Linked DNA regions of Homo sapiens: region 1 is linked to region 2. A link means that fine-mapping ties the variant in region 2 to the expression of a gene that starts in the linked region. Tissue or cell type: whole blood. Region 2 holds a variant in brackets; the other region holds the start of a gene. All regions are shown on one strand. Distances are between the middles of the regions.

Region 1 (8,000 bases), 110 kb after region 2:
TACCCCGGGGTTCAGGAGAGGTTCAGGGATAAACGCGGGCCCTCCCCCAGGTTCCTGTGCTGACTGAACCCCGGCTCAGGCTGGGCCCGGCGGACAGCAGCTGGGGCTCTGCCAACCCCCGGGAGCATGGAGTCACTTTACTGAGTGTGGGTTCCCTGAGCAAATCCGATTATCCCTCCCTCTCAGAGTTCACCCTCTTCAGGAGGGATGCGGGGCCCTGCGGAGGGAGGGGAGGCTGAGGCCCAGGAAGCACCCTCTTGCTACGGGACACACCCCAGCCACACCAGTCGCCCACCGCCCCTGCCGCCTCCTGCAAAGCCTCCCCCTCCCAACTCCCAGGAATCTGAAGCGCTCTGGAAAGCCTCAGCCATGGCCCACATGGGCTTCCCCGGCTCAGCCAATCCCCCCACCTGTCCAGGCCTGCCAGCTTATTTTAGGTTCTCTCTGACGCCAGGACACACACCCTCGCTACAGGCCAGGCATCTGCTGGTGGTCACACCCACCCCCATGCAGCCGGGGCCTCCACAAGCCCACTCCACCTGACCGACGGGCGTTTCCACGGGGCCAAGAATGAACCAAGCTTGGGGTCTAAGCTCTGCTTCCCATGTCTCCTGGAGTGGGGACACCCCCCATCACTGCGTTTGGAGCTGGGAGAGCCAAAGCGTGCCAGAGGTGCTGGCGGCGAGGAGGGTGGGGGGTCCTGCCGTGCCGCAGGCAGACCCAGTGCTCCAAGCAAGGGATGCCATCGAAGGGCAGGAGGCCGACCACCCATTCTCTCCCAGCCCAGAGAGCCCTGGGGACACCAGGGATGGGGCATGCTCTGTTCTTCCCAGGCTGAGAGCACCATCCAGCCCCCGAGACCAGGACAGCACCCAAGTCCCTCTCGGGCTACCAGAGCATACTCCTGTCAGGTCACAAAGCCCAAAAGGACAGCTCCTCAGGACACCGGGGGACAGCGCTTGGGTCACGTGATGCCGCTGGCCCCAGCCCTCCTCTCCCCCTGGAGAGCTCATCCCACCTGCATGAGGCCACCCAGCCAACACCTTCCCTGCACACAGCAACGCAAACAACCTCCTTGGAAGTCCTGAGACACACAGCCAGCCCAGAACACCGGGGCCAGGCTCCAAAACTCTCTCAGCCGAGAGGGGACAGGACAGCCAGGCCCGGGGCTGTGAAGAGAGTCCATGCCCTGCTTGGGGATGGGGCAGCCAGGCCCGGGGCTGTGAGGAGAGAGTCCAGGCTTGCTCAACTCTTTCCCTTCTCCGGTCTGCACACGTTGGGAAACAAGGAACGCAGGCCTTGGCTCGGGGCCAGCCTCCCATTCCAACCCATGCAGTCCCTTCCAGACCCTTCCCCATGGCCTGCTGGCACCGCCGGACTAACCCCACACCCAGTCACCTCCTACCAGAACAAAGGGGCATGACCACCTCCCGCCTTGGTTCTAGAGAGGAGACAAACCTACAACCGCTCTTCAAGGCCGGGCCTGCACCTCGGCTCCCGGGGACACCCACCTACTCGCAGACACCACCCTGAGGCTACAGAGGCCTAGGCCGCCCGGGCAGCGGGTGTGGGGCTCCGAGGCAGCCCTCTGGCCGGGGCCGGCTGCCCCCGGGACCACAGCAGCCTCCTCTTCCTCTACAAGCAGAGATGAGTCTGACTCACTCGATGTTTGGATTTGAGAAAGGAGAAACACGGGCTTTATGACTTTTTTTGTACAGATTCCTCTTTCGTGTTTAATATTTGTACAGTTAAACACACAAGGTAGGGAAGTGTACACAGGCCGCTCCTGCTGCCAGCCTGTCTCCCCACCTCCGACGGGGGACGTCTGCGGGCAGGGTCTCTCCACCCGTCCCCAGGCCCGGAGCAGAAGCCACGGCCTGGCCACCCCAGCTGCCGGCTCAGAAGGGCCGGTGGGGAGACCCGGCCCTGACACAGGCACCACGCAAGGCCCTTCTCAGGGCACGCGGAGACCCGCCCCCAAGGCCACCTGCTGGGGGGCCCCCTGGACCTCCGTGTACATCCCACAAATGCCCCTGGCCCTGACCCAACTCTGTTCTGGAACCTTCTCTGCAGTCTGTGCCGCTCTGGCCGAGAGTAGAAGAGGCTGCCTCTTCCTCTCCAGCCAGGGAAGGGGCTGGGGAGATGAGACTCCCCCTTGGCAGTGCCAATTGCCTCCCTGCCCCCTACCCTTCAGCTGCGCATGACTTAAGTCAGCCCCGCCACCGAGTTCAGCCAGAAAAAGCGAGTTCACAACCAACGTCACCGCCTCTCTCCACGGAAAAGGCCCTGGCGGCGCTCACAGGCCCCACGGGTCTCCCCACGCACTCGGAACCACCAGGCGCCGGCTGAAAACTTTGCGCCCCTGACTCCAGCTCCTCTGGCCTCCCCCTCCCCCGCGAGGGGCCTGCCTCGGGCAGGACCTTCAGACAGTGAGGGGTGGGCAAGGGGGAAATTCCCGTCCTGGCCAACACCCTTGGGGCCGCGAGGAGTTAGGACCTTCCCTCCCTCCCCGACTCCTCTCCCCTCCAAGCCCGCGGGGGCCTCACCGCTTCGCTTCCACCTTCTCCGTCCGGAGCCGGCCCTGGGGAAGGGAGTCCGGAGGCGCCCGGTGGCCCCCCAAGCCCGCCACTCTCAGAAATTAGAGCGCGGTCCTCCAGCCCCTGCCCTGCACCCCCGCGCGCCCGGCCCACGCCAGGTCCCACCAACAGGGGCGCGCGGGGGCGCATGCCGAGGGAGTCCCGCGCCCCGGGCCCCCACCCTCCCCACGCCCCCCGCCCCCCGCCCCCCGCCGGCCGGGAAGGATATGGGTTGCAGACCAGCCGGAGGCACCAGCTGCGCGGCCGCGTGGTCTGACCGAGGCAGAAGAAGACCGTGGCCGCCAAGGCCGGGTACGGGACGCGCTGCTCCTCGTCGGCACCCAGCTCCGCGCCGCGCTCGGCCGCCGGGCTCTCGGAGGGTGACACGCCGAGCTCGGACCCCCGCTCCGCCTCGCGTCCCGGCGCCCCGGGGCTCTCCGGGGACGCCCCCACCAACGCCGCAGGGCCAGGGGGCGGCGCGCCCAGGGGCACCCGGACCTCGTCGGCGGCCCGTGCGCCCTCGGTCATGGTGGCGGCCGGCAGCACCTGCAGAGGACAGGGGGTGACCCGGGGCCGGTGGCGACGCCCCCGCCCTGCCTCCCGCGGCGCGGAGCTGCGGGAACAGCCGCGGCCGCCGGGATGTCTTTGTCTTTTCTTATTAGAGACAAACGCGCCCCCCGCCCCCGCCCGCCCCCTCCCTCCCTCCAGCGGCCCCACCCCCACCCCGAGGGGCTCCCCGGCCCGCTTCGCGCAAGTTGAAGAGGGTCCCGGGCGCGCGTCCTCGCCGCGTCTCACCTCGCTCTGCTGGCCGGCGGCGTCCCCGCGGGCATCGCCCGGGCGGCGCGGTCACCGCGGACCCCGCTCGGCGCCCGGCCCCGGCCCCGGCCCCCAGCGCCTCCGCCCCCGGCCCCGGCCCCGGCCCCCAGCGCCTCCGCCCCCGGCCCGCGTCCCCAGCCCGCCCGGCTCCCGGCCGCGGCTCGACTCCGGCTCCGGCTCGCCCGGCGGAGGCGACGGCGGCGGCCTCGGCGCGGCGTGGAGGCCGCTGAGCGGACGGGTGAGGCCGGGGCGCGGGGCGCGGGGCGCGGGGCGCGGGCCGGGGACCGGTGAGGCAGCGAGCGAGCCTCGAGCCCGTCCGCGCGCGGCGCAGGAAACTTCGGGCTGAGCGGCGGGGGGCGGGGCGGGGCGGGGCCGGCGCGACCGGGGCGGGGCCAGCGTGGCCGGGGCGGGGCCGGGGGCGGGGCGGGCGGGGGGGTACTGGGGAGGATCCGCCCCCGGCCCGAGACGCGCGCGCCCGAGCGACCCCTCCCTGTCGCCGCCCGGCGCCCCGCCCCCCCCCGGGTGCGGGAAGTTGGACCCCGCCCGCGCCCCCTCCACGCCCCCGCACTGGGCTCCCCGCTTTTCGTGCTCCCCAACAATGCCGGGCGTGGGGTGCACCAGGGGGCGCTCGCGGGAGGCTCCGGCGGGGTGGGAGGGGGAGCACCTACGTCCTTCCCTGCCCCCAACTGCGGGGGCGGCCGAGCCGCCGATGCCGCGCCCCTCCCCCTCCCGCTCCGGCTCCCCCTCCCCCTTCGCGCTGCCGCGCGCGCCGCCGCCGCCCCCACCCCCACCCCCACTACGACGCGGGCCCGGGTCGGCGGAGGGGCGGGGACCGGGCGGGCGTGGAAGGCGAGAGGCTGCGTGCCCCTTCCCCGCCGCGTGTGTGTCCCGGGTGTGCCCGCGCGCGCGTGTGTGATGGGGCGCGGGGGCGGGCGGGGGTGTGCTTTACGGCTGGGCGCTCCTGCACTCGCATCTCTCCCCGACACGCACGGGCAGTTTCCGCGAACTTGTCCTCGTCTCCGGTCCCCTCCCGCGTGGGGATCTGGGGGACCCTGGGGACGGCAGCCTGGTGCTCCTGCATCCTCCAACCCCGCTGCCTCAGCGAGACTCACCCAGGGGCCCCCGAGGAGAAGTGCAGGCCCCTTCCCCCTGCCAGCAGCTGCTCCTTCAGCCAGGCCAGCAGAAGGGCCTTCCCCTGGACCCTCAGAGCAAGTGGTTTGGTCGGGAAGGGGTGGACCCTTCAGACATTGGGGATGGCCAGGCCCTTGTCCCAGGGAGGGCTGGCCGCACCTCGAGGTGCCAGCAGGTGGGGGCAGGTGCCCAGGCTCCTGACTCCCCCCAGGGCACCCCTCCAGGCTGGAAGGGTGGTTTTGCTTCTGGGACCACTGCTTTGTGCACCAGGGAGCTTGAGCTCCCAGGTGTGCACCTCAGCACGCCCGCCAACAAGGGGCCCCTGGTAGTGGGAGAGACCCCTTCTCCCTCCAGACAAAGAGGCCCTGCTCCAGGGCGCACCCTGAGACCCCAGACCCGGAGAGGCTGTGGGGCGGCTGTGGCTTCCCACCTGCGGGTGAGCAGCAGAGAAGCAGGACCTCCCCCGGGTGGGCCACATCGTGCAGGGTGAAGAAGAGGCCCTGCCCAGCTGGGGCCCGGAAGGACACACAGCACCTGGGGTGGGCCGAGGAACTGGAAGGCAGGAGTGTGGGGGCCTGGCTGGGGTACAGGTCCTTTCAGCAGCACCTCCTCCTGTATACGGGAACTTTCAAGAAAAGGAAAACATTCAGTCTATTTTAATGCAACTACTCAGCGATGGAGGGCCACAGCTGGTGAATTAGGCCTTCAAAGGTCCAATTAAGGTTCCAGCCACAGAGGAGCAGGACCTAGGAGAGCCCCGTGCTTTGGACACATCCGTGGAGGGAGGCTGGAGCAGGTGGGGAGACACAAACGCTGAATCGGAGTCCGGTCCAGAGGGCACTTGGAACCTCTGATCTTTTTATCAACACCCTGCTCGTTAAAAGTTAGGGTGGGCCAGGTGCAGTGGCTCACGCCTGTAATCCCAGCACTTTGGGAGGCCGAGGTGTGTGGATCACTTGAGGTCAGGAGTTCGAGACCAGCCTGACCAACATGGTGAAATCCCGTCTCTACTAAAATACAAAAATTAGCCAGGCATGGTGACATATGCCTGTAATCCCCGCTACTCGGGATGCTGAGGGAGGAGAATCACTTGAACCCAGGAGGCAGAGGTTGCAGTGAGCCGAGATCACGCCACTGCACTCCAGCCTGGGTGACAGAGTGGACTCTGCCTCAAAAAAATAATAAGTTAATTAATTAATTAATTAAAGCTAAGGCAAAGCCACAGACTGAAGCTCCAGATTCTAGCTGGGGGCTGTCGTTGATTTGCTGGACAAATGGTAGTTGAGGGTGGACAGTGCGCGGGGCCCGGTTGGAGGGTGGAGGTGCCTTGGCTGTGACCAGACAGACCCGGTTCTCATGCCTGCAGCTTCCGTCTTATGGGGAGGAGAAAACAGTTTCCAAACTAAGTGCCAGGGGGCGCCCAGATAGACGAGGGCGGGGCCTCTGTGAGGACAAGCCGGCAGCCGGAAGAGGAGCAGAGGCTCTTTCCAGCAGCAACGGCAGCCCATGCAAAGGCCCTGTGGCAGGCCGGAGGGAGCCGGGGAGCGGGAAGACCCAGAGGGCGCCTGGGAAGCATCTTGGAATTCTGAACACAGCAGCTGTTGCCCTCCCGGCCACACTCTGTCCTCCAGATGTCGGCAGAAGGGAAAAAGACCACGGACTTCTATAACAGACTTTTTTTTTTTTTTTTTTTTGAGACATAGTTTCGCTCTGTATCACAGGCTGGAGTGTAGTGGCGTGATCTCGGCTCACTGCAAACTCCGCCTCCTGGTGTCAGTTCAAGCGATTCTCCTGCCTCAGCCTCCCGTGTAGCTGGGATTACAGGCATGTAATTACCATGCCCAGCTAATTTTCATATTTTTAGAAGAGACGGGGTTTTGCCATGTTGGCCAGGCTGGTCTTGAACTCCTGACCTCGTGATCCGCCTGCCTCAGACTCTGAAAGTATGGGGATTACAGGCGTAAGTCACCGCGCCCGGCCCACAGATTTTTTTTAAAGAAAGTGTCTGTAATCTGAGAAAGCGTGCAGTCGCCAGGCATCCCACGGACAATTTGCAGACCAGTTGGAGCCTCTCCAGCACCCGGGCGGGCATTTTCCAGCTCAAGGTCTGGGACGGAGGCTGCCTCCCACCGCTTTCCGTTCACTCCAGCCCATCGGATGGCGTGCCCACCTTGTCCTTGGGGGCTCTGTGTCCCCTGGGCTGCTGCCCACTGACTTGCACGCTCCACGTCCGGCGGGACAGGTGCCCGCACGCCTGGAACATGGATGCTCCCTGCTCTGAACATCCATCTGCCGGAAGATGAGGCAGCTGAGGCCGCGTTCACGCAGCCGGAGCGGGGACCACCTCAACGCGACGTGAGGGCCTCCACCGAGAAAGGACATAAACGGCAGACGGTCCAGTGAGACGAGACGGGAAATCGTCCTGAGAGCGGTGATGCCGTGATGCGCGCCCTTCGCTGAGCGTCAGAGAGAAGCCCAGGACGGTTGGAAACCGGCATTGAGATGGTTTAATTCAACTCCAGAACGTTCAGATGTATTGTTTCTAATCCTCCAGGTCTCTGGAAAATTTGCTTCTGGTTTTCGCTGTTTCCTTTTTTCTTTTTTTGGCCGGGGTTGTTTTTAAGGGCAATGCTTTTCTTTGACAAAGAGCTGCGGGGAGAGAGTACAAGTGACCTCCTAGCTCAGCCATCATGTGGCGGAACCCAAGAAGGTGGGGTGGGCTTCTCGGGGTCTCCCACGGATTTCAGCATCCCCCACGCTGCCCAGGGGAAGGAGGACGTCGGCAGTGGGGCCCGGCATGGCAGCGATGGGACAGGCACGCCCTGACTGGTCCTCAGCTCCCTGTAGCAGTGGGGCCCGTGGCTGGTCTGCCAGAATCTGGACCAAGGGCTGGTGGACAGAGTCCTCTCCTGGCAAAGCCTGGAGAGCCAGCCGTGGCGGTCACTGCCTGGTGTCCAGTGAGACCCCTTCTCCCAGCCAGCTCTGGGTTCTGCTGCTACGTGTGGCCTGTGAGCCGGGGACCCAGGTCACCGCCACCAAGGAGGCTGCCCACGCGGCCAGGAAGCCAGGCCCCGGGAATATGCAGACAAGAGGGGCGTCCCTGCCTAGACTGGCCCCTGCAGGGATCGGCCTCCAGGGCAGGCAACAGGGCCTCTCACTGACACAGGCTCGGGCCCTGCCTGGCCAGAATGCTTCTTCCCTGGGAGCAGCCTCGGTGGGGCCCCATTGAGCCGCAGACTCAAGGGCAGGACGGAGCCCGGTAGGTCGCCCCGAAGCATGGCGGGCTCTCACCTTTGTCCTGCCATGGAGTCAGAGACACGAGACCCTGGAGTGGGGAGCAGGTGAGTGTCCTTTGCTCCTGCCTAGCATCCAGTAGGTGCCAATAAATACCTGCTGACTGGGTGGCTGAAGGGACTGCGCTGGCATCCCAAGGAATTTTGGGATCCACCACCCTCGAGACCGTGCTGGGCGGGAAGC
Region 2 (8,000 bases):
AGGCTTGGAGGGAGGGGCCGCTCCATGCCTGTCTCCTCGTGTCCGGCGCTGCTGGCTGTCCTTGGCTTGCAGCCACATCACTCCCATCCCTGCCTGCCTTCCCCGGCCTTCCTCCACCGCTCTAGGTCTCAGGCCCCCTCTCCTTTCTCTTATAAGGATGCCTGTCATTGGATTTAGGGCCCACTCTAATTCCAGAATGATCTCATCTTGACATCCTCAATTACGTCTGCAAAAGCCTCATTTCGGAATCAAGTGACGTTCACAGTTCCTGGGGCTCAGGCTTGAACGTATCTTTTCGGCAAATGCAGTTCAACTCACCACTGCACCCGGCTCCTGACCCCGGAGGTATTTTCCTCCTTCACCTGCACGTCCTGTAGGAGCCTCCCTGTGCAGACACAGCACTGGGCAACTTGTAGAACCTTCTCCACACAACAATGCCCAATTTTGGCCGACCTCACATCTGATTCCAAGTATAAAGCACCGAATAAAAGATAAAAGGAAAGTGTCACCTGCATCCTCCACGTGAGAATCCGACGTTCCTGTCTCTGCACAGGGCGAGCTTGGCTCACCCAACCTGGACTCGGCTGGGGCCCAAGGGCTCCTTGGCCTCTCCCGGGCAAGCTTGGTTCACCCAACCTGGACTCAGCTGGGGCTCGAGGGGTCCTCGGCCTCTCCCCCAGCCCCCCGCAGCCCAGGACCCCTGACTGTAGGCTCCAGGCCTCCCTGGAAGCCCTGGCCACGCTCGCCCCGCAGCCCTCAGACTGGCTGTGCTTCGCGGATCTTGGCTGGTTCGAGGCTGGTGCCGTCCCCGCCTTACCTGGGCCTCCTGGACCCTGCCTCCCGGCAGCTGGGTGGGGGACCAGGAGAGTCCTGCACCCGTGACGCAGCTGCCACATTATCCTCGTGTCCCGGGAGGGAGAGGAATCACCAAGAAAGCCCCCAGGCTAAGCAGCTGTCCTCTCTTCTCCTCGGCCCTCTGGCTCTAAACAAGGAACCCAGGTGATCCAGACCCGAGCTTCCCTCCCATCAGCCTCTCCTGGCCTCACCTGGCTGGCCTCCCAGCCCTCCCATCCTCCAGCTGCTCTCCTGTCTCCTTCTTGCATCTTCAGATGGAGCTGCCCACTCCATGGGCCTGGGCAGCAGCTTGAAGTGGGCGTGGGCCAAGCCCTCTGGGAGTGAGGGGTGCAGCGGCTCCCAAGGCACAGAGCCAGAGGTCCTGGCCCATGATGGGTGAATGCGGCCAGGAGGGAGGGACGGGGCAGCTGGGAGTCCATCTCGGGCAGCCTGGGGCTTCTCTCCTCCCCATGCAGGGAGGTGCAGGGCTGGGCATGCAGGTGGAAGTCTGGCTGCAGAGGATTTCACAGCTGCAGGCCCAGCCTCGGGGACCCACTCCCTCAGCCTCCGGGGAATCCTGAGGCATCACCAGGAAGCTGCTGGTAGCATGGAGAAGGCTGGATTTGCTCCAGCTGGAGGACATGCGGGCACACACACACACTCATACACGCATGCACACACACATGCACACGCACAATGTACAAACTCAATGCACACTCACTCATACATGCATGCACACACATACACGCATGCACACACTGATGCATGCACACATGCACACACATGCGTGCACACACATACATGCACACACGCACACATGCACTCATACTCACAAGCATGCACACACATGCATGCAGACACACACTCATACACACATGCATATGCACACATATGCACACACTCATACATGCACACACATGCACACATCACGTATGCACATGCTTACATGCACACATTCATACACACATGCACACACACATTCACATGCACGCACACACATGCTTTCAAACATGCACGCACTTTCATACTCACATGCACACACACGCACATGCGCACACTCATACACATGCACACACATACATGCATGCACACACATGCTTACATGCACACATGCACACTCATACGCACACACAGGCACACAAACACATGCAAACTGACGCGCACACACGCACACATCCTTACATATGCACACGCATACACACATGCACACACTCATACACGCACACACACACTCATACACGCATGCACACACCCACACTTACACACATGCTTACACTTATACTCACACACATGCAAACACACGCACACACACGCAAACACAAACAGCAGCATGCACACACTCATACACACATGCACACACACATATACACACGCACACACCCATATACACACTCATACACACACACTCGTACACACATGCACACACTCATACATGCAGGCACACACACATCCACACATACATGCACACATGCATGCACACACATGCTCACACACACACATGCACACTCACATGCTTACACACATGCACACACTTATACTCACACATGCACACACATACATGCACACAGAGGCATGTGCACACCCCATGCCCACACACGTATGCACACACACACAGGCACCCCCCACACCCCCACCCATTCACAGTGCTCCCTTGTGTTCCCACACCACCACAATCACCCTGGTTACAATCTCATGGCAAAGCAAGACTTCTGGAGGAGAGGCTGTAGGGTTGGGCCTCGGCCTCTGCTGCCCCTGTCAGCCCCAGAACGTGTCTGCCACCTGGGCTGAAACAGGCATTTGCTGCCGGAGCCCCAAGGCACAGCAGTGGGCAGCTGGGGCCCAGGGGGCTGGGCCCTGGCCTGAGAATGCAGCTCCCCACCCTCTGAGACTCCCAGCAGGTGACGGCCCCTCTCCCAGAGCAGAGTGTGCCCCTCCTGCAACCTGAGGTTTGTACTGATTAAAACAGGTTCCTGGAGCCCATCCAGAAGATCTCCCTGTGTGGGCTCCACAAACTCCCTCCAAGGACTGGAGCCTGGGCCTGGGGCGGCCACCATGGAGCAGGCGGGTCCCCTGGCCCAGGCTCCAAGTGCCTCTGGCAGGCCCTCTGGCTGATACTTTTGCACCCGTGGAGGTGTGTACAAGTGCCCGTCCCGTCCCGGGTGGCAGGAGAGGCTGCGGGAGAGCTGGTTACTAGGTGCTTCCTTGGCCTCTGTGGCACTGGCCATGAGAATGGGTAGCATGGCGACAACCTGAGCACTGTGGGCATTTGGGGCCAGGGGCCCTCTGCAGTGGGGCCATCCTGTGCACCGTAGACATTTAGCCCCCCAACCCCGGCCTCTTCCCACTAGATGTGGGTGGTGTCCCTATATCCCTGACAAGCATAAATGTCCCCTGGGGGACATAGTCACCCGTGGGAGCCACTGGTGTAGACAGGGAACCCGGGTACAGGACCTCTGTTGGCCCAGCAGAGGGGATGCGAGGGGCTGGGGGTGGCCCCTATCCTCATGGTCACCCTGTTTACAGCCTGGGCTAGGAGCTATTGCCCCCACCCTGGGAAAAGAATGTCTGACTGAGCCCCACCCACTTCCTTTGCAAGGAAGAGAAAGCAGCTCCGGGAGGGTCCGGGAGGGCAGCTGTGGCCACAGACCACGGTGAGGACACTGACCACCGGCAGCCACCTGTGGCCTCCAGACCCAGGTCCCTCCTGGCTCTTTCCAGCCAGCCCTCTCCTCCCTGCGCAGATGCTGTGGCTGCTATTCCTGACCCTCCCCTGCCTGGGGGGGCTCCATGTCCAAGACCCCAGGTGACTCCTGGCCCAATCCCACACTGGACCCTCAGGGACTGGGCTAGGACGGAGAGCTGACCCCCTCGTCGAGCAGGGCCTGGAAGCTCCTGGCATTGCAGGAGGGTGGGGCCCGGCTCCCTGACCTCCTT[T/C]GGTTGTTCCCAGTGCCCGTCCCAGAGAATGACCTGGTGGGCATTGTGGGGGGCCACAATGCCCCCCCGGGGAAGTGGCCGTGGCAGGTCAGCCTGAGGGTCTACAGCTACCACTGGGCCTCCTGGGCGCACATCTGTGGGGGCTCCCTCATCCACCCCCAGTGGGTGCTGACTGCTGCCCACTGCATTTTCTGGTGAGTCCCGGGCCTGGGACCCCAATGAGGGGAGGTGGGAGTGGGGCCGCCCCAGACCAGGACCCCTGAGCAGCCTGGATCCGTCCTCCCCCAGGAAGGACACCGACCCGTCCATCTACCGGATCCACGCTGGGGACGTGTATCTCTACGGGGGCCGGGGGCTGCTGAACGTCAGCCGGATCATCGTCCACCCCAACTATGTCACTGCGGGGCTGGGTGCGGATGTGGCCCTGCTCCAGCTGGTGAGCCCCATGATCTGAGCCGCTAATGTCAGGACGGTCAAGCTCTCCCCGGTCTCGCTGGAGCTCACCCCGAAGGACCAGTGCTGGGTGACTGGCTGGGGAGCGATCAGGATGTTCGGGGCGTGTTGGGTGGAGGCTGGGGAAGGACTCGGGCTGTGGGCCCAAAACGCCTCATTCCAGGGCTCCGGGGGTGGTGGTGGGGTGGGTGAGTTCCAGAAAGGGAAGAGACGGAGCTGCTCACCGCCATGCAGCACCTCCGGCTGCTTTTCCCCACAGCTCTGTGCTGCCCGGGCCCAGAGACTCGGGGGTCCTGCGAGTGCCAATGGCCACACCAAGCTCCAGACTCATTATTCAGAGGGGAAAATACTTCTCATTTTTTTCTACTTAGGAAAGGTTTTTAAATTTTTTTGCTGGGTGCGGTGGCTCACACCTGTGATCCCAGCACTTTGGGAGGCAGAGGCAGGAGAATGGCTTGAGCCGGGGAGTTTGAGGCCAGCCTGGGCAACATAGCAAGACCCCATCTCTAAAAAAGAAAAGAAAAGAAAAAACACCGCAAACGAAAACACCTCAAAACCAAAAGGCATTTTTTGGAGGAAAAAAAACAGAAAAACTCATCCCTCCACTTTTCTCTGGTCCGTCCGACTGCGAGCCCTGGGAGTTTAGAGGGAGACACGAGCCCTCCCACCTCCTGGGGTCCCACACACCGTGCTCAGGCTGGGAGGTTCAGGCCGGGACTAGGGGCCCTTGGCCACAAGGGAGCCACCTTCCTTCCCAACCTGGGGAGGTGCTGGGGCTGCTGGGTTGACGGCAGGGGCGTCTCCGCTGTGCCAGCCGGGGTCACCTCTCTCCCCAGAGTCGCTGCCGCCGCCCTACCGCCTGCAGCAGGCGAGTGTGCAGGTGCTGGAGAACGCCGTCTGTGAGCAGCCCTACCGCAACGCCTCAGGGCACACTGGCGACCGGCAGCTCATCCTGGATGACATGCTGTGTGCCGGCAGCGAGGGCCGAGACTCCTGCTACGTGAGTGCCCCCGGCCCGCCCTGCCTGCCTGCCCTGCTCCCACCGCAGAGCTCAGCGGTGACCCCTTTCCTTCCCTTCCTCAGGGTGACTCCGGCGGCCCTCTGGTCTGCAGGCTGCGGGGGTCCTGGCGCCTGGTGGGGGTGGTCAGCTGGGGCTACGGCTGTACCCTGCGGGACTTTCCCGGCGTCTACACCCACGTCCAGATCTACGTGCTCTGGATCCTGCAGCAAGTCGGGGAGTTGCCCTGAGCAGGCTGGGCTGGGCTCCCACCTGGGTCGGCTGAGGAGGGACCAGGACCTTCCTCCTCCCAGCGATCTCCGCTTCGGCCTCCGCTGCAGGCCACCGTCTTGAGCCCGGCTTCTCTGGCTCCTCAGCGCCCAGGACCTCCCTGATGCCGGGGTGGGGAAGGGGCCGGGGAAGGGAGGGTGGGGGCCTCGCTGCGTCTCTGTCTGATTAAAGAGCAAGAGCAGAGTGTGTGGCGTCTCTGTGGGATGGATTTGCATTCCAAGCTGCAGCCAGGTGCGGTTTGCTCAGCCACCTCCTGTTGGAGGCCTCCACATTTTGGCTATGGTAATAAAGATGCTGAGAACATTCATGCTCCGGGCTCTGTGTGGACGTGCGTCTCTGGGCTCTGTGTAGACGTGCGTCTCCGGGCTGTGTGTGGACGTGGGTCTCCGGGCTCTGTGTGGACGTGCGTCTCCGGGCTGTGTGTGGACGTGGGTCTCCGGGCTCTGTGTGGACATGCGTCTCCGGGCTCTGTGTGGACGTGCGTCTCTGGGCTCTATGTGGACGTGGGTCTCCGGGCTGTGTGTGGATGTGGGTCTCCGGGCTGTGTGTGGACGTGGGTCTCCGGGCTCTGTGTGGACGTGCGTCTCCGGGCTCTGTGTGGAAGTGTGTTTCCTGTCCTCTGGGGGCGACACTCACAGGTGCTGCTTCAATGCCAGGTTCCAGATGAGGAAACCGAGGCAGGAAAGTCACCGGAGATGGAGGCGCAGTGGGTTGGGGCTCGGGGGACCCAGGCCGGCACGCTGCACGCTGCTCCTGTGCTGGGGCCTCCGCGTCCCCGGGCCCTGGCCTCCCAGGGCAGTGGTTAGGTTTAGATTCCTGCCCCGACTCCCTCCTGTACCGGGCGACGCCATGGGTCCCAGAGCTCAGACACCACCACGCAGGGCGAGACGGGAGTGGACGGCCGCGAGAGGCCCAGCCTCCGCATGGGGTGCCTTCCTGGGGCGCTTCCTCTAAGGGCCAGGCCAGTGTGGGCAGGGAGAGCAGTGCTCTGAGGGGCAGGCGACGCCCAGAACGGCCCCGTCCCTCCTCCGCCCCGTGTTCATTCTGCACCTGGACCAGGCAGACTCAGCGCCCAGACCCCAGGCTGCAGGTCAATGTGTGGTTCTGGCGTCCGCTCCCCCGGGCCCCCAAAACCAGGGGCTTCCTCCTCTGCCCCTGTGCTTTCGGGACCTCTGCAGGGCAGAGAAGAGGTGGAAGGTCAAAAGGGAGGGTCTGGGGAGGCTCCTGGCTCCTCCGCAGAAGTTTCTGCAGGTGAGCGGCTCGGGGACTGGCCTTCACCCTCCCACCTGCCCTCGCCCGCCCTGCCTGTCACTCCCGGGGATGAGGGTCGGGAGGATCCCCACAGGGCAAGGGCTTCAGGGCAAACCCAGGCTCTGAGCCTCCGCGCAGAAACCACATCTGGGTTTATACTTTCTCCCACGCCCCTGGTCTTTCCAGAGTGGGGCAGAGCAGAGCAGTTGGGGCGCCCCAGCTGGGGGAGTCACTGCACTTCAAGGCAGTGGGGGAAAGACTCCCGGGGTGTGGACGGGTAGGGCACTGCCCTTTCTTTCCCGGGGAGCTGGCTGCCTCTGACACTCCTCATGCTTCCCTTCCTGGGAGAAAGCGGGGAGCCCCAGGCCAGGTTGCCGGCTGCTCTAAACCCAGGGTGAGACCTGCTGGACACAGCCCAGGGCCTCAGGGGACGTGACCACAGCCCGCGTCCCAGGGCGCTCTCGGCGGGGGTCCAGGGTCCAGCTGCACCCCGCCACCTCCCAGGGGGCTCCTGGGTCTCCCACACTGCCCTGGCTCCCTGGGCTTTCTAAGACAGGCAGCGGGCAGTGATCAGTGCCATTCCCAAGTCCTCCGAGCCACGTCCCCGCCCAGCCGGACCCCGCTGGACCCTGCTCTGCCCTGGCAGCGTTCAGAGTCCCTCCCTTGCAGCCCCTGATCTGTGCGACTCACAGGACACCAAGACCCAGACGGGAAGCCGAGCACTCACACCCTCAGTGCGGCCACGGCAGGCTTCCGTGTTTGACGGAGAAATCACCTCCCGCTGCCGGGAGGAGACCGAAATTAATTGCTCCTCCTCCAAACCGGGAGCCACCTGTGCCCCCACTCGCCGACCAGGGCAGCTGAGGAGGCCCCACCCCACAGTGACTAGTTGTGCCTCGGGGTCCAGGACCCCGCAGCTCCTGCAGCTGCCCCGAGACATGCCTAGACCCTTCCTCCCCCGTGACACCCACGACCAGAAACACAGTGACGGCCACACCTGCTTTCCATCATGCACTTTAATGAGAGTCAGCACTAGAGAGGATGGGCGTCCACCACCAGCTGCCTGGGCAGGGGAGGGCCGGAGGGGCCGGGAGGGGCGGATTCAGGGTTGGGGAGGAGGCTCAGGATGGAGGAGGGGGCAGGATGGAGGAGGGGGCTCAGGATGGAGGAGGGGCTCAAGAAAGGGGAGGGGGCTCAGGATGGAGGAGGGACTCAAGAAAGGGGAGGGGGCTCAGGATGG

Evidence for each region. PIP is the estimated chance that this variant, and not a neighbour inherited with it, causes the effect.
Region 1: CACNA1H starts here. The variant in region 2 is fine-mapped to the expression of CACNA1H in whole blood (TOPMed, PIP 0.91).

What each region holds. Positions count from the first base shown.
Region 1 is chr16:1,148,842-1,156,841 of GRCh38, reverse strand. CACNA1H (calcium voltage-gated channel subunit alpha1 H) reads right to left here and starts at 3,736. Exons shown (of 35, transcript NM_021098.3): 1 at 3,372-3,736; 2 at 2,806-3,122. The coding sequence starts at 3,104. RefSeq lists enhancers at 2,115-2,882, 4,257-4,837.
Region 2 is chr16:1,258,767-1,266,766 of GRCh38, reverse strand. It overlaps TPSD1 (tryptase delta 1), which reads right to left. Exons shown (of 5, transcript NM_012217.3): 5 at 7,759-8,000. It also overlaps the pseudogene PRSS29P. Among named protein-coding and RNA genes, the nearest start is that of TPSD1, 6.7 kb to the right of the region's middle. The variant T/C (reference allele first, on the strand shown) is at 3,769.